Homo sapiens: one gene and its partners. The protein of the gene in region 1 binds, or shares a complex with, the protein of each later gene. Each region holds a gene or a part of one and is shown in the gene's direction. Other genes may lie near its edges. The genes, in order: CHTOP, THOC1, SARNP and THOC2.

The links.
Region 2: CHTOP (region 1) and THOC1 share a complex: the UniProt entries of both Homo sapiens proteins name them as parts of the transcription/export (TREX) complex.
Region 3: CHTOP (region 1) and SARNP share a complex: the UniProt entries of both Homo sapiens proteins name them as parts of the transcription/export (TREX) complex.
Region 4: CHTOP (region 1) and THOC2 share a complex: the UniProt entries of both Homo sapiens proteins name them as parts of the transcription/export (TREX) complex.

What each region holds. Positions count from the first base shown.
Region 1 is NC_000001.11:153,644,039-153,646,819, forward strand, and holds the end of CHTOP (chromatin target of PRMT1 protein), read left to right. Parts: intron 1-1,025; coding exon 1,026-1,231; 3' UTR 1,232-2,268; downstream 2,269-2,781. UniProt on the Homo sapiens protein: Plays an important role in the ligand-dependent activation of estrogen receptor target genes. May play a role in the silencing of fetal globin genes.
Region 2 is NC_000018.10:244,015-251,054, reverse strand, and holds part of THOC1 (THO complex subunit 1), read left to right. Parts: intron 1-3,097; coding exon 3,098-3,206; intron 3,207-4,599; coding exon 4,600-4,731; intron 4,732-5,222; coding exon of another isoform or gene 5,223-5,228; exon of another isoform or gene 5,229-6,753; intron 6,754-7,040. UniProt on the Homo sapiens protein: Component of the THO subcomplex of the TREX complex which is thought to couple mRNA transcription, processing and nuclear export, and which specifically associates with spliced mRNA and not with unspliced pre-mRNA.
Region 3 is NC_000012.12:55,758,707-55,765,746, reverse strand, and holds part of SARNP (SAP domain-containing ribonucleoprotein), read left to right. Parts: intron 1-5,106; coding exon 5,107-5,196; intron 5,197-7,040. UniProt on the Homo sapiens protein: Binds both single-stranded and double-stranded DNA with higher affinity for the single-stranded form. Specifically binds to scaffold/matrix attachment region DNA. Also binds single-stranded RNA. Enhances RNA unwinding activity of DDX39A.
Region 4 is NC_000023.11:123,625,019-123,632,058, reverse strand, and holds part of THOC2 (THO complex subunit 2), read left to right. Parts: intron 1-206; coding exon 207-371; intron 372-4,090; coding exon 4,091-4,366; intron 4,367-5,396; coding exon 5,397-5,538; intron 5,539-5,989; coding exon 5,990-6,147; intron 6,148-7,040. UniProt on the Homo sapiens protein: Component of the THO subcomplex of the TREX complex which is thought to couple mRNA transcription, processing and nuclear export, and which specifically associates with spliced mRNA and not with unspliced pre-mRNA.

The sequences.
Region 1 (2,781 bases):
ATGGGAGCCTTCTGGTTTAGAGCTTAGTGGAAAACTCCCAACACCTGTCCAGAAAAAAAACACTATTGAAGCCCCTGTGTATATTTGCTTTGGTTCTCTTAAAAGGTGTCTTGGGTCTTCCATAACTTATGACCTTGAAGTTGCCAAGGAATAATAACTGTTAGGAAAGAAAAGTTGATAACCAAGGGCTTGTTTTCTTCTCTCCCATTATATGATACTTACTGAGTGAAGTGCAAGCTAGTTTGGGTTTCAGGATGAAATAACATGTTTCCAAATTATCTTGACTTGGATCCTGAGAGACATCACGAGGGTGGGAGAGACTAAAATAGCTTTTCAAAAAGCTGAGTTTGTTTTGTTAACTGAATTCACACTGCTTCTCAGATAACCACAATTGTCAGTTGTCATAAGGTAACTAGAATTAAAGGTAGAAATAGCTAGGACAACTCAAAATATTTTTTCAAATCTCCCCTACATTGTTCCTGTGTCAGAAAAACTCAGTCTCCTGACACATGAGGTCAGCTAGCTCATTAGACTTGATAAGTTTAAGGACAGGTGAGATGACTTTCCAGAAGGGTCTCCAATAAACTTAATTTGAAAACTGTCTTGTCTTCACACCCCTGATGCTCTGTGCTCTTGTTACCACCTCCCTATCTTACCAAATGGGGTTATCTGTCATGTATTTTAATTATGAACTTAGTGAATCTCAAATGTTAGGTAATTTTATCTTAGGATTGATTAAGGTTTTTTAAAATTATAGTTGCCAGTTAATTATTTTCCTTTATTGATAGAATAAAATTTGTTAAAATAGCATTTAGAGATGATCATGTGATAGAGGATTCATTATGTGTGCTTTCCATGTGTTGCTTTCTACCCATTGTGTTTCCTTTTTTTCCAGATTTCTCCTCTTTGCCCTGCCCTTCAGCTTTTCTCAGCTAGGCCCCACTGCTCTAAGGGGCATTTACTACAGCACCTATTAAACTTACTTGTAACTGTCTCTTTTTTTTTTTTTTTCCCCTTTGGGCCAGGTCGGGGTATGATAGGTCGGGGAAGAGGGGGCTTTGGAGGCCGAGGCCGAGGCCGTGGACGAGGGAGAGGTGCCCTTGCTCGCCCTGTATTGACCAAGGAGCAGCTGGACAACCAATTGGATGCATATATGTCGAAAACAAAAGGACACCTGGATGCTGAGTTGGATGCCTACATGGCGCAGACAGATCCCGAAACCAATGATTGAAGCCTGCCCATCCTCCCATGAGAGACTCTTGTTAGTCAACACATCTGTAAATAACCTTGAGATAACAGATGAGAAGAAATCTGATTGATGCTGGATGGACCTATCACAATAGGCTGTGGACTTACTTGCCACCAGCTTGTGCATTTAGTGTGTTCCTTTTACTTTTTGATACTGTGTTGTATGAAACCCTTTTGTCCTTTGATTTGGTTTTTTGTTTTTGTTTTTTTAGGGGGGAGGGGGGGTTTCCCCTCCTTTGCCCAGACTTCTCTTTGAACACAAATGCATTAGCCTTGTGGCTAGAACACCCTCTTCCTACCTCTGTCTCCCCTCACTTGTCATATGCTCTGACATGCTAACATTTCTTTTGTTCATCCCTGTTGCCCCCACAGAAACATCCCAGAAAAACCGGTCAGTGTTCCTTCCTCCCTGATCCTTAGGTTTCTGAAATAGGGTTCTGTTACATCCTCTTCGATAGCCTGTTTAAAATGTTTAGAAGGTCTGGAGCTCAAAAATGCGTTCTTCCACATTGATAATTTAGTAAACTGAGAACATTGACATCACTACAGGGCAGCATAAGAGGTTGCTTACATGTGGTAGCAGCTCTGGTTTGATTCAAGTTGCTACCATGTACATTGACAGCACATATACCATAACCAGCGTGTTGGGTTGAATTGCACTTTCTACCTTTGTATGAGATTTACAGACTTTCCTTCTGGGTTTGTATCATGACCAGAGGGGTACTATAGGGTTGGTTTATACTGCAATATAGAGGATCAGAAGCCATTTGATTTGGTAGGTGTGTCAGAAGGGAGAATGATGGCAGACGAACTGCTGGAAGAGGTCAGAAGATAGCCATGCTAAAATGCAATTATATCCTCATGTTTATCCCAAACTAATCTTGGACTTTTCCACTCATTAGCTTTGTTTTGCCCTTGTTTCCCTTGAAGGTTTAAGTTCAACCATATTCTGTCAACTGTTCAGTTTCAGTGGAATCTTGTATTTCTGGTTCATTATAACAAACTGTTCGCTTAAATCCACCCAGGACTCTCTTTATTTGAGGTGCCTCAAAATGCCATGGCTACTTTAATGATGTTTTTTTTTTTTTTTCTTGTGACCGAGTCTCGCTCCTGTCACCAGGCTGGAGTGCAGTGGCGCGATCTTGGCTCTGCAACCTCCAACTCTCTGGTTCAAGCGATTCTCCTGCCTCAGCCTCCCGGGTGGCTGTGACTACAGACATGTGCCACCACACCCAGCTAATTTTTGTATTTTTAGTAGAGATGGGGTTTCACCATGTTGGCCAGGATGGTCTTGATCTCTTGACTTGGTGATCCACCCGCTTCAGCCTCCCAAAATGCAGGGATTACAGGCGTGACCCACTTTCAGCCTCCCAAAGTGCAGGGATTACAGGCGTGACCCACTGCACCCAGCCACTTTAATGATGTCTTGATATACCCCTTGTATGGTTGAGAGTTTCTTTCTTCTTACTTGTGTTAAAATTCTGGAGAGCCTGTGGCTTTGAGCAGAAAGTGAAGAATTTGACTTCCTCTGAG
Region 2 (7,040 bases), on another chromosome or scaffold:
ATATTGTCTATTCAGTGTCTAGTAGCTATTATTTGTTATCGTTATTATTTTTTTTTAGAGACCTATTTATTCATTATACATGAATAAAGTAGGCTTTAAGGTCTGGCCTGAGCAACATAAGGGCTCTGGGGCAAGTTAGTAGGCTACAAGATGATGAGTCACCTGAAGTGTAAACAGCCCAAAAGACACTGGCCAGTGCAGTTTTGTCTGCTTAGATTTTGCCTAAGACTGTATAGACAATTCATCCCTATTGGTTATGTTTGTAAATCACTTAAATAAGACTCAACACTCAGCTGCCTCTGTCACAGTCACTAATGTTGAATAGAGGGAGAAAATACGTGAGGAATTACTTTGTGACAGCTGTTATCACCAGATGGTCTTAGGCACTGTAATTTACAAAGCAGAACTCATTACCCATCTACCTACAATATGAAGTCCATTTCAGATTTGGCTCAAATACACCAGTAAACATTTTTGTTAAGAAATTTCAATGTATAACATCCTGTAAAATAGCTGAACATTTAAAAAAATATATCAAGTTTTCCAGAGTTTTTTTGGTTAAAATAGTTACAAGACATTCTATTTTACATAGTAACTGGGTCTCTGATTTGTTATTATTTGCAAATACAATAATTGGTTACATTTGCTTTGTGTGGGTAAACAGAAAATTCAAAAGTTTCTGTGGAGTGTTGAAGGTGGAAGGCAAATTGCAAGTGGGTTGAAGAATGAACAGGAAGGTAATGAAGTGGTGACATGGAGTATAGACAACTCTTTGAAGAATTTTATTCAGCTGTGAAGGAAAAGAGCAAGGGACAGCATCTAGGAGAGGGGACTTTAAATTTTTAAAAATATATTAATGCCTCAACTGTAAAAACTGCCTAACAGTAAGATATTAACACTACTTCAAAATTTATTCTGTAAGACACCTCAAATACCCACCAAGCCAATTAAAGATAAAAGGGAAGAGATCAAAAGTCTTTTACAGGTAGGAGATGGTAATTAGCAACATGGAATAATATTGTGATTGGTATTAAGTGTTAAATTAGATGTGAAGTTCTTAGCAATTGAGACAAAAAGGGACATATAATGGTTGCATGAGTCTCATTCTCTGTTAGAGGTAGCCCCATTTTTAAGAGACAAACTTTCCTGGTACATTTCAAGAGGTATTTATTATATTCAATCTTACATGTTGTAACTGAGTAACATTTTGTTACTCAGTGTGTGTGTGCACATGCACTTCAGAAACATTCTTTATCAAATGTATGGAACTATACAAATATTGGTTCTTGTTCTTTCATGAATGTAAATAATTTATATAGTGCTATTTCTTTTCTCTATTTACTTTAACGTTTTAGGGAATGTTCTTTTTGCGGCTTTTTTTTTTTTCTTTTTTGAGACGGAGTCTCGCTCTGTCACCCAGGCTGGAGTGCAGTGCTGTGATCTCGGCTCACTGCAAGCTCTGCCTCCTGGGCTCAAGCGATTCTCCTGCCTCAGCCTCCTGAGTAGCTGGGACTACAAGCACGCACCACAATGCCTGGGTAATTTTTGTACTTTTAGTAGAGATGGGGTTTCAGTATGTTGGTCAGGCTGGTCTTGAACTGACCTCGTGATCCGCCCGCCTCAGCCTCCCAAAGTGTTGGGATTACAGGTGTGAGCCACCGTGCCCAGCCTGTGGCTTTTTTTAAAAACCCAATTCATAGAAAACCCAGAGGTATAATCTTACTGTTGTAAATCAGTGAAGCTGCTTTAATTATAGAGAGAAGTTAATGTGTACATCATTGTTTTCCTACTTTCAGAGTTGTTACTAGGGAAAAGTTTAGGAAGAGCGAAAGTAAACATGCCCATTAGAGTCTTTCAGATACTACTAATTCATGATGAAAGCTTTGGCAAGAACTAGATTTAGATTTTTGTTAGTTAAAAGTCAGTATTCTTCACTGTTGATTTTCACGTGCTTCAGATACTAGCCGTTTATCAGATATTAGCTGTTTTAAAAATTAAAAGAATAGGCCGGGTGCAGTGGTACACGCCTGTAATCCCAGCACTTTGGGAGGCTGAGGTGGGCAGATCATGAAGTCAGGAACTCGAGACCATCCTGGATAACACGGTGAAATGCTGTCTCTACTAAAAATACAAAAAATTAGCCGGGCATGGTGGCGGGTGCCTGTAGTCCCAGCTACTCAGGAGGCTGAGGCAGGAGAATCGCTTGAACCCGGGAGGCGGAGCTTGCAGTGAGCTGAGATCGCACCACTGCCCTCCAGTCTGGGCAACAGAGTGAGACTCCTTTAAAAAAAAAAATTTAAATTAAAAGAATATGTATTGACACTGTAGATTTGTGACATATCAAGATTAGAAGTTGAATTAGTAGTGCCATAATAAAGTTACTAGATAAAGGGCTTATTTTTGTGATGCTAACTTGATATGTACCATATATGTTTTTCTCATACTGGTGCTTCTTAGGATATAATATTTTTAGTTAGGATATGATACCTGTGACTTTTAACATAGATTCAGATTAACATTGGTTTAAACAACATAAAAGTTGATTTTTCCCCCTCATATCGAAGTCTAGAAGCAGGCAGTCCAAGGCTGGTAAGGGAGCACTGCTCGGTGAGATTGCCTAGACCCAGGCTTCTTCTACCTTCTTCTTCCATCATCTTGGTGTTTGCCCTTTTTCCTGTAGTGCAAGGTGGCTCACGCTCACATCTGCATTCTAGCCAGCAGGAAGAGGAAAAGGCCAGTGATAAAATATGGCCCAAAAGTTGCACATATGACTTCCGCTCTCAACTGATTGGCCAGAATTTAATCACATGACCATGCGAGCAGCAAGATTGGTTGGGAAACATAATCTTTAATTCTGAATAACCATGTGTCCTTCCAAAATTCAGGGGCTCCACCAGTGTAGATAAAGAGTCTATTGGGGTCTATGAGTTCCCTAAAATGATTTGTAAAAGTTTATATAAGCATTTGTGAATGTGTACTTTTCTGATAACTTTCATTAGCTTCTGAAAACGGTTTGTGACCAAAGCTAAGTTAAGAATATTTAGATATTTGTAAAAGAATTTGAATGATTTATTTAATATAACGTTTATTTTATTAGCTCTATTCCAATTGATTACAACCTGTATCGAAAATTCTGGTCACTTCAGGATTACTTCAGGAACCCTGTGCAATGCTATGAGAAGATTTCATGGAAAACTTTTCTCAAGGTAAGTTGCCATTGACAGACTATCAGAAGCCCAGTATTTTATAGACAGTGATAGAGCTAAAACTTAATCTTGTCTAACATACTTTTCACTATGTAATTCTGCCTCTTACATTTTTATACCAATTTCATAACAAGTGAAATTATAAATTAATATTTAAACCACTAATATTGTGAAGTAGTATATAAGAATCGGATATTTAAAAGTTCGTCATTACAGCCTTGCTTTTTTTGAATATAATGAGTGTTGTTAACATAAATTGATATTTTGCAGAATATATTCTATCTTTGTACAAAATTATTTTAGCTATCTTGTTGAAACAGAAGTCCTCAAGTCATGGCTCTGGGCCAGATCTAACCTACTGCTTATAAACAAAGGTTTATTGGAATAGTACCATGACCATCCACTTACCTGTGGCTGTTTTTGCACTATAATGGCACAGCTGAGTAGTTGCAACTGAGATTATAAAGGCCACAAAGCCTGAAATACTTACTCTCTGGTCCTTTACAGAAAAAGTTTGCCAATCCTGTTTTAGAAGAATTTGTTATATTTTTCTTGGCTACTTAAAGATCAGTTGTCCTTTTTTGTCATAATTAAAATCTAAGATAAATAGGTAGTTCTCAGAATAGCATGGTGTGTGTTATGTTATTTTTAATAGTTTTTGTTTTATATGCAATTTTTTGTGGGGGCAGCACCATCCAAATTCAGATTAAGTGGTTAGTGAGAAATAATCTGGAATTGTCTTCTAACTGGACAGAATTTGGTGGAATTTATTTGCTCAGTTTTTAGCACAAGAAATGCGTAAGAGTTTCCACAGGTGGTTAAACAATTTCACTGGTAAATTTCTGTACACTCTTAAAAATGTTCCCTAATCTATTTGTCCCTTACACAGACTTCTTAAATCATATTTCTTCGTTTTTTTTTTTTTTTTTTTTGAGACGGAGCCTCCCAGGTTCAAGGGATTCTTCAGCCTCAGTCTCCTGAGTAGCTGGGACTACAGGTGCCCGCCACCACACCTGGCTAATTTTTGTATTTTTAGTCGAGACGGGGTTTCACCATGTTGGCCAGGCTGGTCTCAAACTCCTGATCTCAAGTTACCCGCCCCCCTCCGCCTCCCGAAGTGCTGGGATTACAGGCGTGAGCCACCACCACTGGCCAAGAAATTATATTTCTTTAGGAGTAGGGAGCTTGTACCTACTTTTGCAACAAGTGAAATATCATACAAAATAGTTTTAACTCCCATTCTGCTATCATAATTTGTATTGTTAGTGTGCCTTGCAATATACAGTCTACATACATGATTGACTGGGAGTAAATTCTAGGCATTTTGATGCAGAAAAGCACTAAACAAATTTGGGTAACAATGTCGAATAAAACTAATATTTTTATTTTGCAGTATTCTGAAGAAGTTTTAGCTGTTTTTAAGAGTTATAAATTAGATGATACTCAGGCCTCAAGAAAAAAGATGGAAGAATTGAAAACAGGAGGAGAACATGTATATTTTGCAAAATTTTTAACAAGTGAAAAGGTATAAGTTTTTCTTTTTCATTAAGCATAATAAGAAATGGTCTTGTTTTATTTCCGTTTAGCTGACAGCCTTTCTAAGTTAAACTGAATAGAAATGTTTCTTATTTTACTTTGGGTTAAAGCTGATTGATTAATGTTAGTTTGAAAGTCCCATTTCTTCCTTTCAGAAGTAGGACTAATTTGGTTTCAAAGGTGAAAGTAGTTCTACATTAAGTCTGTTTTGTAAACTAATTTTGGAATAAATGCAGTTTAATTACTTTCATGTCTATATATTTTAAATGTCAAGTTAGGATTTAATTTGTATATGAAAATATTTCATAATTATTATTTAGGTGCAAGTAAGGGGTTTAAAAGTTCCTTGTTAATCTTATTTATACATTTTAAAAAGTAAATTTTATTCAAATATAATGCTACAAGATTATGTAAAGTTTCTAGTCAAGATGGCACATTGAGTTTATGTTTCGACTCACTCCCTTTGCTCCAAACACATAGCAATGACGGGTAAAATATAAACGAGAAAACAAAAGAGACAAGGCTGGGCTTCCAGAAACAAGATAAATATCTTCATGGACCAGAAATGCCAAGTAGTGAGCAAAACTGCAGCCTGGGCCTGCTGGACTCTCTATCCAAGGCAGGTGGTGGTGTCCAGGAATTTGGCTACAAGTAACAGAGACTAAATGTGCACCATGTGGGACAAGGGGCCAGAGCCAGATTCACTTCTTGAAGCCAAGGACTAGGGTGGAACTTTTATCCAGTTTTGGGAAGAAACTAAGAAAAAATATTGCCAGTCTTCTGCCAAGGGCTATGGTTTTATAGGAAGTTGTGAGCCTAGGGATAACAAAGACAGCTTTGTGTCCATCTGCTTGCTCAGTGACCAGATATGTGATATGCTCAGTATACTTATGAAACAGCTGCTCCAAGAAGTCATCATAAGACTTCTTCTAGACTTTTGGACTCAGGGGCCCTGGTAGAAGCAGATGCAAAACTGCTAGACAGGGAAGGATGTACACAGAGAGGGAGGGGAAAGGAAGTAAACAAACATCCCAAAAGAAAAGGCTCCTGTTCAAAACTCTGATAAATTAAAATTCCAAAATCCATAAATCTAATGCTAAGAAGGATCACCAGCAAAATCAACTATTGGGATATATATATATATTTATTCCAGATGAAATATATAGCCTGACCAAGACTTTATGTATGTTTTGGATACTCAAAAAGATAATCGATGAGATAACATCCATTGAAAAGGAACAAGAAATCATGAAACAAAAGCAGGCTGAAATGAAGTAGGACAGTCGATACAACTAATCGGGAGTCTTGGGAATGAAAAATACAATAATTGAAACCAAAACTCAGCACACAGAATTAAACTATACACTGGACATAGATGAACAAAGAACTAGTGAACTGAAGAAGGTGATGAGAACTTCATCCAGCAAGCAGCACAGACAGATTTTTTTTTTTTAAGTGGAAGAGCAGTTAAAAGCCATGGTGAATAGATTGGGAATTTCCAACATCTGTCTAGTAGGATTTCCAAAGAAGAAAATGGAGGGAATGGTAGAGAAACTGGATTGCAAAGAATTGAAGGAAATCTCAAATCCTCAGCTTAAAAGTGTGTCACAACTGCCAAGCAGGATAAAGAAAGATAAATCTACTCTTCATTACATCATGCCATAACTGTGGGCATTCAGAGAAAACCTAAAAGCCACTAAGGGATAAGAAAGACAAATATACTGGGAAGGCACAGCAGTTTGACTGTTAGCAGATTTCTAACATATCAACCATTAATACCAGAAGACAGTAGAGAAATATTAAAGTGCTGAAAGAAAAATGACATTCAATCTAGAATTTTATACCGAGTTAAATATACTCAAGACTGTCGATGAAAGAAAGACATTTTTATTTAAAGACCAGGATAACTTACCACTCAGTGACCCTCATTTTGAAAAAAACTACTCAAGGATGTTCTTCAGGAGGAAGGAAATTGAACCCATAAGAATGGAGTGGGATACAGAAGGCAACGGTGAGCACAAAAATTGAAAAATATGACAGTAAATTTACTATTGACTATAAACACAAAAAAGTCATGAATGATTTAAAATTTTTTTAATTAAAAAATTTTATTAACGTGGAACTTAACTAGATGACAGTAATAATATGGAAGGGGAAAGCAGAGATGTTTAGTGAGTAATTTAAAATTATGGCAGTCCTTGTAATCTTCAGGAGTAGGAAAGGAATACTGAATATTCCTTTTCATGTATATTAAAAGGGTAACCACCAAAAGAAAACCAACTTGTTGCTCTCAAAGAA
Region 3 (7,040 bases), on another chromosome or scaffold:
TTGTTGTTGTTGTTTTCCCCTGGAACCCCTAATGGGTTTAGAACAGATGCTCTGCCTGTATCTCCTGAAGAGGCACCAAAGATCTTGTTTAAAAGGGAAGCTAGGCTGGGTGTGGTGGCTCATGCCTGTAATCCCAGCACTTTGGGAGGCGAGGTGAAAGGATTGCTTGAGTCCGGGAGTTTGAAACCAGTCTAGGCAACATAGCAAGACCCTGTCTCTATTAAAAAAAAAAAAAAATTAGCCAGGCATGGCACATACCTTTAGTTCTTAGCTACTGAGGAGGCTAAGGTTGGAGGATTACTTGAGCCCAGGGATTCAACATTACAGTGAGCCATGATCATGCTACTGCACGACAGCATGGCAACAGAGTGAGGCCCTGTCTCTAAAAAACGTGGGCAGCGAGGCAGGTGGCTAATGGGGAAATCAGACTCCCCATTTGAGGATATAGCCAAATAAAGAACCAGGAGAAGCAAAACTGGCCCGCACATTCCAAGTGGACATACGTTGGGGGAGGGCTTGGCCTCAGGGTTTGTGCTTATATAATGTCTGGGTTTCAAAAGTCTTATCTCCTCTGTGATTTGAACTTGCTGAAGTACTGCTAGTGCTAAATTGAATGGAAAAAAGTTTATAATGGTAGTTTAACAAGATAGTGGTCTAGTCTTGCCTCTCCGCAAGAAGAGAGGCTCCATTTATTTTCCTGAAAACTGTTTCCTACTTGGCCGGGAGACTTAGTGAAGATATATCAACTAGAACATTCTAGAGGTTCTCAACTTGAAATCCCCATTTATATTCCGTATTCACTTTATCTTAGTGGTAGTAGATCAAGGAAACTTTCCCCCTTGACTTTGTTAGTAAAAAATGTGGTGGGACTTAATGTTTGTTGGAAACCTTCCTTTTTTTTTTTTTTTTTTTTTGTGAGACAGAGTCTGGCTCTGTTGCCAGGCTGGAGTGCAGTGGCGTGATCTTGGCTCCCTGCAACCTCCGCCTCTCGGGTTCAAGTGATTCTCCTGCCTCAGCTTCCCGAGTAGGGACTACTACTCGCCACCACACCCAGCTAATTTTTGTATTTTTTTTAATAGAGATGGGGTTTCACCATGTTGGCCAGGATAGTCTCTATATCTTGACCTTGTGATTTGCCTGCCTCGGCCTCCCAAAGTGCTGGGATTACCGGTGTGAGCCACTGCGCCCAGCCTTATTCTTTTTTTTTTTTTTTTTGAAATGGAGTTTCGCTCTTGTTGCCCAGGCTGGAGTGCAATGGCGAGATCTCGGCTCACCGCAACCTCCACCTCCCGGGTTCAAGCGCTTCTCCTGCCTCAGCCTCCCAAGTAGCTGGGATTACAGGCATGCGCCACCACGCCCAGCTAATTTTGTATTTTTAGTAGAGGCGGGGTTTCTCCATGTTGGTCAGGCTGGTCTCGAACTCCCGACCTCAGGATTTTAGAAGATCCTTCCTGGGATTTTCTCAAAGTGGTGGGATTACAGATGTGAGCCACTGCTCCCAGCCCCTTATTCTTTTATTACATCTCAACAAATGGAATAGCCAATTAAGCAAAATTAGAACCAGATTTAGCTGAGAAAAACATTAGTACAAGATTACTAACTGGAGCCCTTTTCCTAGATACTGTTACTTATAAATTGTAGGTATATGGTACGTTAGAAGAAGGGGTCCTAGTATTCTTGACCTGATTATTTGAGTGATGTGATTAAAATTTACAAGTTTTTTTAGCTAAGGGTTCTAGTGATCCTTCCTCCTTGGGAGTTAAGCACTTAATTGTCCTACTGTTCTTCCAAAGAAATACTTAAGTGAGATACCTTGAGGAGGTGGTAAGGCTAAGAAAGTGGATTCCTGAGTAAAATGTCCTGGATTCCAATCCTCGTATTATTTGTGAAATTTTGGGTGAGTCACTTAATCTCTCCAAGACTAAATTTTCCTATCTATGAAATGAATTTAATTGCTGTGCCTACTCCATAGGATTATTATAAGAAGTAAATGATGCCAGGTACAGTGGCTCACACCTGTAATCCCAGCACTTTGGGAGGCTGAGGCAAGAGGATTGATTGAGCCCAGGAGTTCAAGACTAGCCTGGGAAACATAGCGAGATCCCCCTCTCTGCAAAAATTAAAATAAAGTAGTAAATGAGCCTGGATGCAGTGGCTCACGCCTGTAATCCCAACACTTTGGAAGGCGAAGTGGGCGGATCACCTGAGGTCAGGAGTTCGAGACCAGTTTGGCTAACGTGGCGAAACCCCATCTCTACTAAAAATACAAAAATTAGGTGTGGTGGCGTGCGCATGTAGTCCCAGCTACTCAGGAGGCTGAGGCGGGAGAATCCCTTGAACCTGGAAGGTGGAGACTGCATTGAGCCAAGATGGCACCACTGCACTCCAGCCTGGGCGACAGAGCGAGACTCTGTCTCTGGGGAAAAAAAAAAAAAAAAGTAGTAAATGAGATATTGCATGTGTAAAGAACTGCACACAGTACCTGGCATATACTAAGCACTCAGATGTTCATGGCTATAATGTTATTATTTTAATTTATTATTATTAAGGACAAGAATACTTATGTTTTTCTTTGAACCTGGCTTAATGTTTTTACAATAGTTCAGAGTACATTAATGAGGTACCCGCTATGGATTTGCTGGTGGTCATAATGAGAAAGGCAGAAAAACTGTGTAGGCAGTAGTTTATTCTAGTAATAAACTGTGATTAAATGATAACTTGTATAGGATTCTTAATTGCTTCATAACCATCATTCTTTCTTAGGTCTCTTCCTACTCACTAGAAAGCAGGTGCAGCAAAAGGGAGAAAATGAACATCTTTCTCAAGCTGAAAGAGTTAAAGACCAAGACAGTACTCCTGCCTGCTGTGTTCAGACAGGTGGACTAGTTAAATTGAGCACAGAAAGCTGGATAGCTGCCCTGCTTTTGATTTGTACAGGTGGCTGCTGTGGCCACAGGGACAAAGACAACTCCTTGGTTGGGGTTGAGAGTAGAGGCATTGAAAAATTGCTGTATATTTCTGTAGGTCTTTTTGTTACCTTTGCTTTTGACCTTGTAGTTTTGGGACACCCAGAGACACAGCCTGCCTATAGACTGTAGGACTATAATTTCCTTGGGATTTAAAAACAAATCCAGCTCAGAAGCACCACACAGACATTCTTTAAAAGTTTGTTTGAGGCCAGGCGCAGTGGCTCACACCTGTAATCCCAGCACTTTGGGAGGCCAAGGTGGGCGGATCACCTGAGGTTGGGAGTTCGAGACCAGCCTGACCAACATGGAGAAACCCCGTCTCTACTAAAAATACAAAATTGGCCGGGCATGGTGGCACATGCCTGTAGTCCAGCTACTTGGGAGGCACAGGTTGCAGTGAGCTGAGATTGTGCCACTGCACTCCAGCCTGGGTAACGAAGTAAGACTCTGTCTCAAAAAAAAAAAAAAAAAAGTTTGTTTGAACTCTTTGGAGACGGAGTCCCACTCTGTCTACCCAGGCTGGACTGCAATGGCATGATCTCAGCTCACTGTAACCTCCGCCTCCTGGGTTCAAGCTATTTTCCTGCCTCAGCCTCCCAAGTAGCTGGGATTACAGGCACCTGCGGCCATGCTTGGCCAATTTTTGTATGTTTAGTAAAGATGGGTTTCACCATGTTGGCCAGGCTGGTCTCCAACTCCTGACCTCAAGTGATCTGCTTGCCTTGGCCTCCCAAAGTGCTGGAATTACAGGTGTGAGCCACTGTGCCCTTGTTTGAACTCTTGCTTATCTGTCCTTCTGTTGGGTTAACAACGTAAATAAAGTCAAAGAAACTGTCCTGCTCTTTAGTGAGGATGGGTACATCTCTAGGGAGTAGAGGGTCTCTTGAGATTATGAGAGAATGAGATCTTTTTATATATGTGCCAAATTTTAGAAAGTCCTTCCTGGGGGAAAGACACCCGAGGAGCCTACCTGATTTCAGATGTTTTCTAATCCTGAGGCTGAGCTTCTGATGACTGGTGATAAGATGTGAGGGGGAGGTGGAGAAAGAGAAAATAACTGTTAAAGTGGGCTAAATAAAATGGTAGGGTTTAGGTTCTGATAGGAAAATATATAGACTCTTATACTGAGCAGTGTTGGACATGAATGATACAAAACACCTAGAATAATGGCGAGCTCCAACTCATGGTAAACTGAAATATTCTCTCATTCCCAGGCAGACATCATGAGTTTCACAGATGCTTGGAAAATGTCCACAGCATTTCTCTTAGAGAGTTGACCATGGCTGTCACCTTGATTCACCTGTTTTAAGAATCATTTCAAACTATTCAGAGCCTTCTATGGCTTTGCTGGGTGTTTCAAGCAAATAAGTTTTTCAGAAATACCACTCTGGCCCTCTTCCCCTTTCTTTCCTTGGTAACGTGTAAGCATTGTTCAACAAGTAGTTTGGGTACCTTCTAACTAGGTGTTACTAGGTGTAACTTTGGGTGTTATTCAGTGAAACCTCAGTTTTCCATATCCCTCAACTGCCAGAATTGCTTGAGCATAGAAATTTGTTTTATGGGTGTTTCTTACTGTTTATTTTATTTATTATTTTTTTTTTTGAGACAGAGTCTCACTCTGTCACCCAGGCTGGAGTGCAGTGGTGCAATCTCAGCTCAGTGCAACTTCTGCCTCCCAGGTTCAAGCAGTTCTCTGCCTCAGCCTCCCTAGTAGCTGGGATTACAGGCGCCCGCCACCACACCCAGCTAATTTTTTTGTATTTTTAGTCGAAATGGGGTTTCATCATCTTGGCCAGGCTGGTGTTGAACTCCTGACTGCCTGATCCACCCGCCTCAGCCTCCCAAAGTGCTAGGATTACAGGTGTGAGTCACCGTGCCCGGCCTCTTACTGTTTCTTTACCCTACTTGTCTTATGAGTATTGAGGCCCTGCCTAAAATTAAGTTTTTAGTCATTCTAGGTACAACATAGTATATGCTAGCTTATTCAGTTTCTTATGTATCTTATCTCTTTATGTGATCCTTAGTTCTTGGCACAGGGTTGGTTAGCACCTTGTGACCAATAAGTTATCATTTCATTCCCATTTACTTGGTGAATGGAGGCTAGTTTGTTTCAACTCTTTCCTTTGTCCTTGAACAGTCTGAAGATGATGAGAAACTGAAAAAGAGGAAGGAGCGATTTGGGATTGTCACAAGTTCAGCTGGAACTGGAACCACAGAGGATACAGAGGTAAAAATATACCTGGAACGCTTCATAGACCTTGAAGGGAAATTAGAGTGAATAAACTGAATGGAGAAATATTGTTTCCCCACCTATTTATTTATTTATTTATTTACTTATTTAAGTCGAGTTGGGGTCTCTGTTGCCCAGGAAGTGAGAGTGAATAAACTGAGTAGAGAAACACTGTTTTCCCACCTACTTCTTAATTATTTATTTATTTAAGTAGAGATGGGGTCTCATTCTGTTGCTCAGGCTGGTCTCAAACTCCTGGGCTCAAGCGATCCTCTGCACTCAGCTCCCAAATTGCTGGGATTATTATAGGCATGAGCCACTATGTCTGGCCACCCACCTACTTCTTAAGTGTCCAAATATTTTGCTTTTTTCTTGATAACTTTTTTTCTGGGTGAAGTGGCAACACTGAATTCCATCAATATACTTAATTCAGTGTTAGAGTCTGTTAGACTAGTGGCAAAGAGTATAACGTTTGGAATCAGGTAGGCTTGGATTCTAAAATTGGCTCTGGGCTGGGTGTGGTGGCTCATGCCTGTAATCTTAGCACTTTGGGAGGCTGAGGCAGGCAGATCTCTTGAGCCCAGGAGTTTGAGACCAGCCTGGGCAACATGGAGAAACCCTGTCTCTACTAAAAATACAAAAATTAGCTAGGCGTGGTGGCACACACCTATAGTCCCAGCTACTCAGGAGGCTGAGATGGGAGGATCACTTAAGCCCAGGAGGTCAAGGCTGCAGTGAACCTGGATGGCGCCACTGTACTCCAGCCTGGGCAATAGAGTGAGACCCTGTCTCAAAAAAGAAAAAGGCGGCCGGGCATGGTGGCTTACGCCTATAATCCTAGCACTTTGGGAGGCTGAGGCAGGCAGATTACCTGAGGTCGAGAGTTCAAGATCAGCCTGGCCAACATGGTGAAACCCCATCTCTACTAAAAATACATTTATTTATTTATTTATTTACTTATTTAAAAAAATTAGCCAGGTGCAGTGGCATGTGCCTGTAATCCCAGCTACTCTGGAGACCGAGGCATGAGAATCTCTTGAAACCGGGAGGCAGAGGTTGCGGTGAGCCAAGATCACGCCACTCCAACATGGGCTACAGAGTGAGACTTGCTCTCAAAAAAAAAAAAAAGAAAAGAAAAAGGCTTTGCCACTTAGTATTAATAAGTTACAGTACTTCCTGAGCCTCAGGTTTCATCATCTAGGAAGTGGAGATAATAAAACCTACCTCAAAGTTTTATTTAAAGAGTGAAACGATTCTGTATAAAAAGGGATAGTTTTAAAATATTTAATAAGAACTGGTTGTGCCTAACTCATTTCTGGAAAAGGACAGTGGACTCAAATGAGACTTCCTGTTCTTGTCACTTTGTTTACAGATAGTTTCTCAAAATGAAAGAATCCCAGCACTTTAGGAGAGCAGTGTGGGAGGATCACTTGAGGTCAGGAGTTGGAGACTAGCCTGGGCAACATAGTGAGACCTCATCTCTACTAAAAGTTTAAAATAAATTAGCTGAGTGTGGTGGCATGTGCCTGTAGTCCCAGCTACTCCAGAGGCTGAGGTGGAGGTTGTAGTGAGCCCAGATGGCACCCCTGTACTCCAGCCTGGGCAACAGAGCAAGACTGTCTCAAAAAAAAAAAAAAAAAAAGTATATTAGGCTGTTCTTGCATTGCTGTAAAGGAGAAATACATGAGACTAGGTAACTTATGAAGAAAAGAGGCTTAATTGGCTTACATTTCTGCAGGCTTTATGGGAAGCATGGTGCTGGCATCTGCTTGGCTTCTGGGGAGGCCTCAGGAAGCTTACAATCATGGTGGAAGGCCTTAAACAGCCATATCTGGCAAGAA
Region 4 (7,040 bases), on another chromosome or scaffold:
AGTTGGCTAGTAAAACCTTGGATTAGTCAACCTGTCAGGGCCTTGGCATCTTTTTTTGTAATATGGTCATGTGGTTATACTTGTAGATAGTCTCTAAAGTCCTTTTAAGTTATAAAATTTGGATTCTTAATTGTTAAAATATTCCTAAAATGACTTCTTAATCACTTTGGAAAATATGTTGATTTTGTCTTATTTTTTAAATTTAGTGTCATGATACCCTGGTGCAGTTTGGTGGGTTTTTAGCATCTAATCTGAGCACAGAAGATTATATAAAGCGAGTGCCTTCAATTGATGTACTCTGTAATGAATTTCATACACCCCATGATGCAGCATTTTTCCTGTCTAGGCCAATGTATGCCCATCATATTTCGGTAAGTACAAGTGTCTTTGCTGCCGCTCAAGAACGATCCAAATTATTTCTTAACGGTTTTATCTGTAAGTACATATCACTACAGATTTTGGGGGAAGGTCTTGGCCCTAAACTAGGATCCCTTCTTTGTTTCCAATAGGGGTACGAAGCTGTGTGGTAGAGGTATACAAAAAAGGTGATGAGAAATTTGGAGTCTAATTGATCATTTAATCAAACATCTGCTGTTAGTGTTTACATATCAACTGCTACAGTCTCCCACTTCTTTCCTAACTAACTGCTACTTGATTTAATTATCACTTTGTTAGCACTATGCAGAAATTCCTGTGTTATGTATACACTCTGAAGGGAAAAAGACAATAAGGGAGTGGTGTTAGGCTGCTTCTTCCCCTTTAGATCCTCTCAATCCAGAGAATTGTTTGCCGTCTTTGTGTAACGTCTTACTGTTGTCACACCCCATGGTAGATCAGTCTCAGCTGTGCAAGAGGGTACCTGATTTCTTGACAGACAGAGGTGGGAGAATTTCTTCATCTTAGGAATTCTGACCTGCCCTGTGCTAAGTGAACACACTAATCAGCAATATGGAATCCTAGCAAACAGGAACACCTGGTTGTCTGTGGTTGGCTGAACTTTTCCAGCTCAGAAAATGGAGCAGGTCATTCAAGCTACTTTTTCTCTCTTACTTGTGTAAAATATTACCTTTGTCTTTTAAGAGATACAAAAACCTAAACAAAGAAATGGCATTTCCCTCTCAGGCTTGGAAGAAAACAGAAAACTAAATGAAAGTGGCTGTATAGCCAAGTCAGATATAAGTCTTTTATCTGTAGGCAGCATGCCACTCTCTGGAAAAGGTGTTTCCCAGCAATCTTGTGGTTGTGCTGGATGGGCATCCAAGCTGTCCTGGGGATCCTTGCTTTTGCTTCTTGAGTGAAAGCCTCTGTTGAAGAGCCTTCGTTGAGAGAGTGAAAATGTATATTAGGTGATTGCTATGTCCCCTCTATAAACTATCAGCAGGCTCTCTTGAGGATAATTCAGCCAAACGCTGCCCAGATTTTTTTTTTTTTTTTTTTTTTTTTTTTGAGATGGAGTCTCGCTCTGTCTTCCAGGCTGGAGTGCAGTGGCGCAATCTCAGCTCACTGCAACTTCCACCTCCCGGGTTCAAGCGATACTCCTATCCCAGGCTCCCAAGTAGCTGGGATTACAGGTGCCCGCCACCACACCCAGCTAATTTTTGTATTTTTAGAAGAGATGAGATTTCACCATGTTGGCCAGGCTGGTCTCAAACTCCTGACCTCAGGTGATCCGCCTGCCTTGGCCTCCCAAAGTGCTGGCATTATAGGCATGAGCCACTGTGCCTGGCCTGCTCAGATTCTTGAGACGAGATTTTTGAACAATAGTGAGAAGTACAGCAATAATTGTGGATATCAGTTCTATTCCATAAGTCTAGTTCCCCAGGCAATTTGAAATGTAGAACTGTTATGTCTCTTCATTTGACTGAAGGTGTGAACTTGAAGTGGGAGTTAAACTGACTTTAGACAAGGACATATTCATCTTGGGTAAATACGAAGTATAGCCTTCTTTTCTGACCAAGCCTATTTTTCTAACTAGATAGTGACTATGGGGTTCCTAGCAATAGAAATCACAGATTCAGACCCAGAGGACTGGGGAGATTGGAGCTATCATGTAACCCTCTCATACCTATAAACTAATTTTTAGTTTTAATTGTTGAGGTTGTGGTCCACCTTGAGACACAGGTCTGAAAGATAGGCTTTTAACCTAGTTCATATTCTAGATCTTGCCCAGAACAGGTAATTAGGCTGTCTTTTATGCAGATAATGTCAGCCCTATTTTATCCCGTTTTGTTAGAACCTTAGCAGAAGTCATTCTGCTCATCTAGATTCATATTAGTTACCTTCAATAAGACCTGTCCTCTAAATTAAAAAACACTCTCTGTTTTCCCAACTGCTATTCCCTCAGGTTTCTGATGCAATTGGGACTCCTTTTTCGTAACTAATGTTCTTTGTAGCTTTGTCACTTACGTGGTCTCAGTGGTTGTCAGCATGCTCTCTAAAATGGGGATAACAGAGCATAAATCTTCCCACTTCTAGAACAATTGTAAAATTCTAGAACAATTGTAAAATTGAGCACTCAGGAAGGAAGGCAGGTAACTGAGCTGTAAGGAGCTGAGACTCTTTTGCCTATCACAGTGTAGAACTGGAAGCAGAACCTTTGATCATCTCGTTTTGGGTTACGTGTTTAGCACAAATAGAATGATTTAAGTGATTTTCTAACGTAAGGAAGTAACTAGTTTTAGGACTTCCTTTAGGTTCGTATGAAGGGTGATACCTAACTTAAACAAAATTTTCTGGATGAGAGCTCTTTCATCCTAAAGAGACTGAAGGATGTGAAACAATAGCAGCAACTCTGTGTTATCTTCATATATATGTGTGTGTGTGTGTGTGTGTGTGTGTGTGTGTGTGTGTGTTCATGTATAATATATATGTTCATATATATGTTATCTTCATATATATAGAATATATAGAAAAAATATATATATTTTTGTGTGTGTATATATATGTATAATATATTTGGCATACACATCTCTGCAGCCCCTCCCATTGTACTAACAATTTTTTTTCCTCATACAATTAAGAATATGGCATTCCTCTGTTTTTTCCCCCAAATTAGGATAAACCAGTCAAACGAAAGAAGCTGCAGCATCAGTTCTCACATGCTTTAAACTTCAATATACCACAGCTTTTCACAGAAAAATTTATTTGGCTTAGCAGTAGAGTAACCAGTTGGTCCTGGTTTGCCTGGGATGTTCCCAGTTTTAGCACTGAAGTCTTAAATCCTCAGAAATCCCTGAATCCCCAGCAAACCCTGACAATTGGTCACCCTACTTAGCAGTCTTAAAACAAATTTCTCATAACTTTTCTTAGTGTTGATCCAGCTTTTTTTTTTTTTTTAATTTTTATTTTTTGAGACAGTCTCCTTCTGTCATCCAGTCTGGAGTGAAGGGGCATGATCTCAGCTCACTGCAACTTCTGCCTCTGGGGTTCAAGTGATCCTCTCACCTCAGCCTCCCAAGTAGCTGGGATTACAGGCCTGCGCCACCACGCCTGGCTAATTTTTTGTAGAGATGGGGTTTTGACATGCTGGCCAGGCTGGTCTCAAACTCCTGATCTCAAGTGATCTGCCCGCCTTGGTCTCTTGATCCAGCTTTTTAATTGACAAATTTTAACAGTTGGTAGGGTCTGCATGTAGTGATACTACATTCTGTCCTAGTTGGCTATTACTAGTTCCATTCTTCCTCTTTTCTCATGTTAAGACCTTCTATTTGTTCCCTTGAATATCTCAAAAGCAGGACTGGAAACCCTACATGTTCAATCCCTGATACAGCAGCAAGAGGGAGTAGGGTGGGGGAATGAAAGAGGAGAACATGCATATACCCTGTTCACTTTACTCAACAGGTCAGATTAGATAAGAACCCTCTGAGAATCTCCTAGTTGGCACACAGTACTAAAGACTGGAATAGCTTCCAGAGATGATTTATCTTAAAATAAACGTTGTTCATAAGAAACTAGAATTTCTACAACAGTTTTGAGATTGGTCATCTTTTGATTCTTTAGAAGGGAATATAGATTTTTATGCCATGAAAGTCAAAGCTATAAATTATGTTGTGTGTGTATGTATGTATGTATTTTTACTTTTTATCTACAGTCAAAGTATGATGAACTTAAAAAATCAGAAAAGGGAAGTAAACAGCAACATAAAGTTCATAAGTACATTACATCATGTGAGATGGTGATGGCGCCTGTCCATGAAGCAGTGGTCTCCTTACATGTTTCCAAAGTCTGGGATGACATCAGCCCTCAATTCTATGCTACATTCTGGTCATTGACAATGTATGACCTTGCAGTTCCACACACCAGCTATGAACGAGAAGTCAATAAACTTAAAGTCCAGATGAAAGCAATTGATGACAATCAGGAAATGGTAGGTTTTTGTTCTAGTAGTTCAAGTGCAATAACTTTATGGTATTCAATGTTACCTATATTTTGAAATTGTTTTAGCTCTGGTTCCTTAAAACAGTGATCTTGTTGCTATATAATATTTTCTTAAATGGGGTTTAATAGTTACTTCTGAGTGGGGGGCCAGGAGTTTGGTGACTAGGTGGAGGTTATGATTAATCAAAAATTATTTGAGTGTCCTTTTCTACTGACGACTATGCTAGTAACTTAAAGTGATTCATGTGACTCTAATAGCAAGAGCAGTAGTTCTCAAGAGGAGAGTTCTTTAGGAGAAGACTATTGAGAAGCCGAGTCTTGAAATGGACAGGCCTTGAAGGTAGATTAGGTTTGGAAATATGGAAGCAGATAGGGAGGTCACCATAGGGTTCCAGCAAAGACAGGAAGTAGATTGAGGTTTAGGGAGACCACTTTTACTGATTCACTTTCATGTAGTGAATGTACTTAGTGATTCATATGAATAGTTATGATGGGGCCAGATTATGTAGGCATTGGAAGTCAGGGAGAAAAGTAGACTTGGTAAAATTGAGAGCTATTTTAGATTCCTGAGCAGGATAGTAATGTAAAAAATGGTACTTAAAAAAGATTACTCATGACAGCAGTATGAAAGATGCTTTTTGACTAGCATTAGGCTAAAGACCAGCTAGGTGGCTTTTTGGGCAGTCTATTGTGAGAGCATAGACTGATGGAGGTAGTGGCAGTGTACAAGGCTTGTAAACCAGTCTTGATATAAAGGAGAGGGAAGAGTCAAAGATGACACCATGCCTGAGACTAATAGTGTCAGTGTTGCAAATGTAGCCTGTTCTGATGGTGTATGAAGATGCCATGACAGTGTTATGAGTGTGTTGAATGGAGATAAAAGTAGCACGTTCAAGTGGACCTATATTCATGTTAAAGTAGTTATAAACTATCAGCCTTTATCTCTTTAAACTTTTCAATTAAAAGAAGAAAGGTAATGTGCATATAGTTAGAAAAGTGTCTAATTGAATTCTTTGTAGCCCCCAAATAAAAAGAAAAAAGAGAAGGAGCGCTGTACTGCCCTTCAGGACAAGCTTCTTGAAGAAGAAAAGAAACAGATGGAACATGTACAGAGAGTTCTACAGAGATTGAAACTGGAAAAGGACAACTGGCTTTTAGCAAGTAAGTTGTTGGAATTGTTAGGTTCCTGATGCTGGTAAATTACAGAAAACAAAACATTATAACTTTAGAGGTGTTAAAGTGTATTATGTTTGTATTTCAACTCAGTGTTCCCTATCCCATTCTTTGGTTATTTGTTAATGCAGAATCAACTTCATGTTCACTGGAGGAACTGATATAGTTTGCTGGTGAAGTTAATTAACTTTTAACTACATATTGGCAGCTTGTCATTCAGCTTTTCTGTATAAAACATATTTCTGGAGAAATCATAGAAAAAAAGGTCCACATAGTAAAAATGATAATCATGACCAGGCATGACATTTGGTTACAAACTATAAATAGTTTGTGGTTTATAGTATTCTCTTCACTAAAGGTAATATGTTGTCATGTTTAGTGGCTTTGAGGCACTTGGGGAAGAAGTTTACCACTTAATATATTCTTCCTTTATTTTTAGAATCTACCAAAAATGAGACCATCACAAAATTTCTACAGCTGTGTATATTTCCTCGATGTATTTTTTCAGCAATTGATGCTGTTTACTGTGCTCGTTTTGTTGAATTGGTACATCAACAGAAAACTCCAAATTTTTCCACACTTCTTTGCTATGATCGAGTAAGTTTTTATTGCAACCTTTAAAAAGTTCTCACACAAAGATAGCTAACATTATAATTTATAGAGGTATTATTGTGTGTTTAGTTAAAAAGCATGAACTCAAGAACCAAGTGTCTGAACTTGAATCCTAGCTCTACTACTTTCTAGCTGTATGATCTTTGGCAAGTTATTTAACCTCTCTGTGCCTGTTTTCTTATCTGTAAAGCATAAGTACCTGCTTCATAAGATTGTTGTGAGGATTAAATGAATCACTACACATAAAAAGTACCTGATATGTAATAGGCACTCAAGGTTAAACTATTAACTAAGTATTTGAGTTTACGTGTTGTATCATAATAGGTAGAACTCTCTTCTCCATTCTTAACCTTCACTTCTCAAAAAAAAAAAAAAAGACAAAAAAGTTTACACCTTCACACACATATAAAAGCAGGGAAGCTTTTCAGTATGGTCATATGCACATTTTGCATTTAGCTTTTTTCTTATTACTACATTTTGTGGTTTAAAAACATAATGTGGCCGGGTGCGGTGGCTCATGCCTGTAATCCCAGTACTTCGGGAGGCCGAGGCGGGTGGATCACAAGGTCAGGAGATCGAGACCATCCTGGCTAACATGGTGAAACCCCGTCTCTACTAAAAAAAAAAATACAAAAAAATTAGCCGGGTGTGGTGGTGGGTGCCTGTAGTCCCAGCTACTCAGGAGGCTGAGGCAGGAGAATGGTGTGAACCTGAGACGCGGAGCTTGCAGTGAGCCTAGATCACACCACGGCCCTCCAGCCTGGGTGACAGAGTAAGACTCAGTCTCAAAACAAAACAAAACAAAACAAAAAACATAATGTATGTTCCAGTATGTCAGCTGCATATTTTTAATTTCTATCAGCATTTCCTCTGCTTAC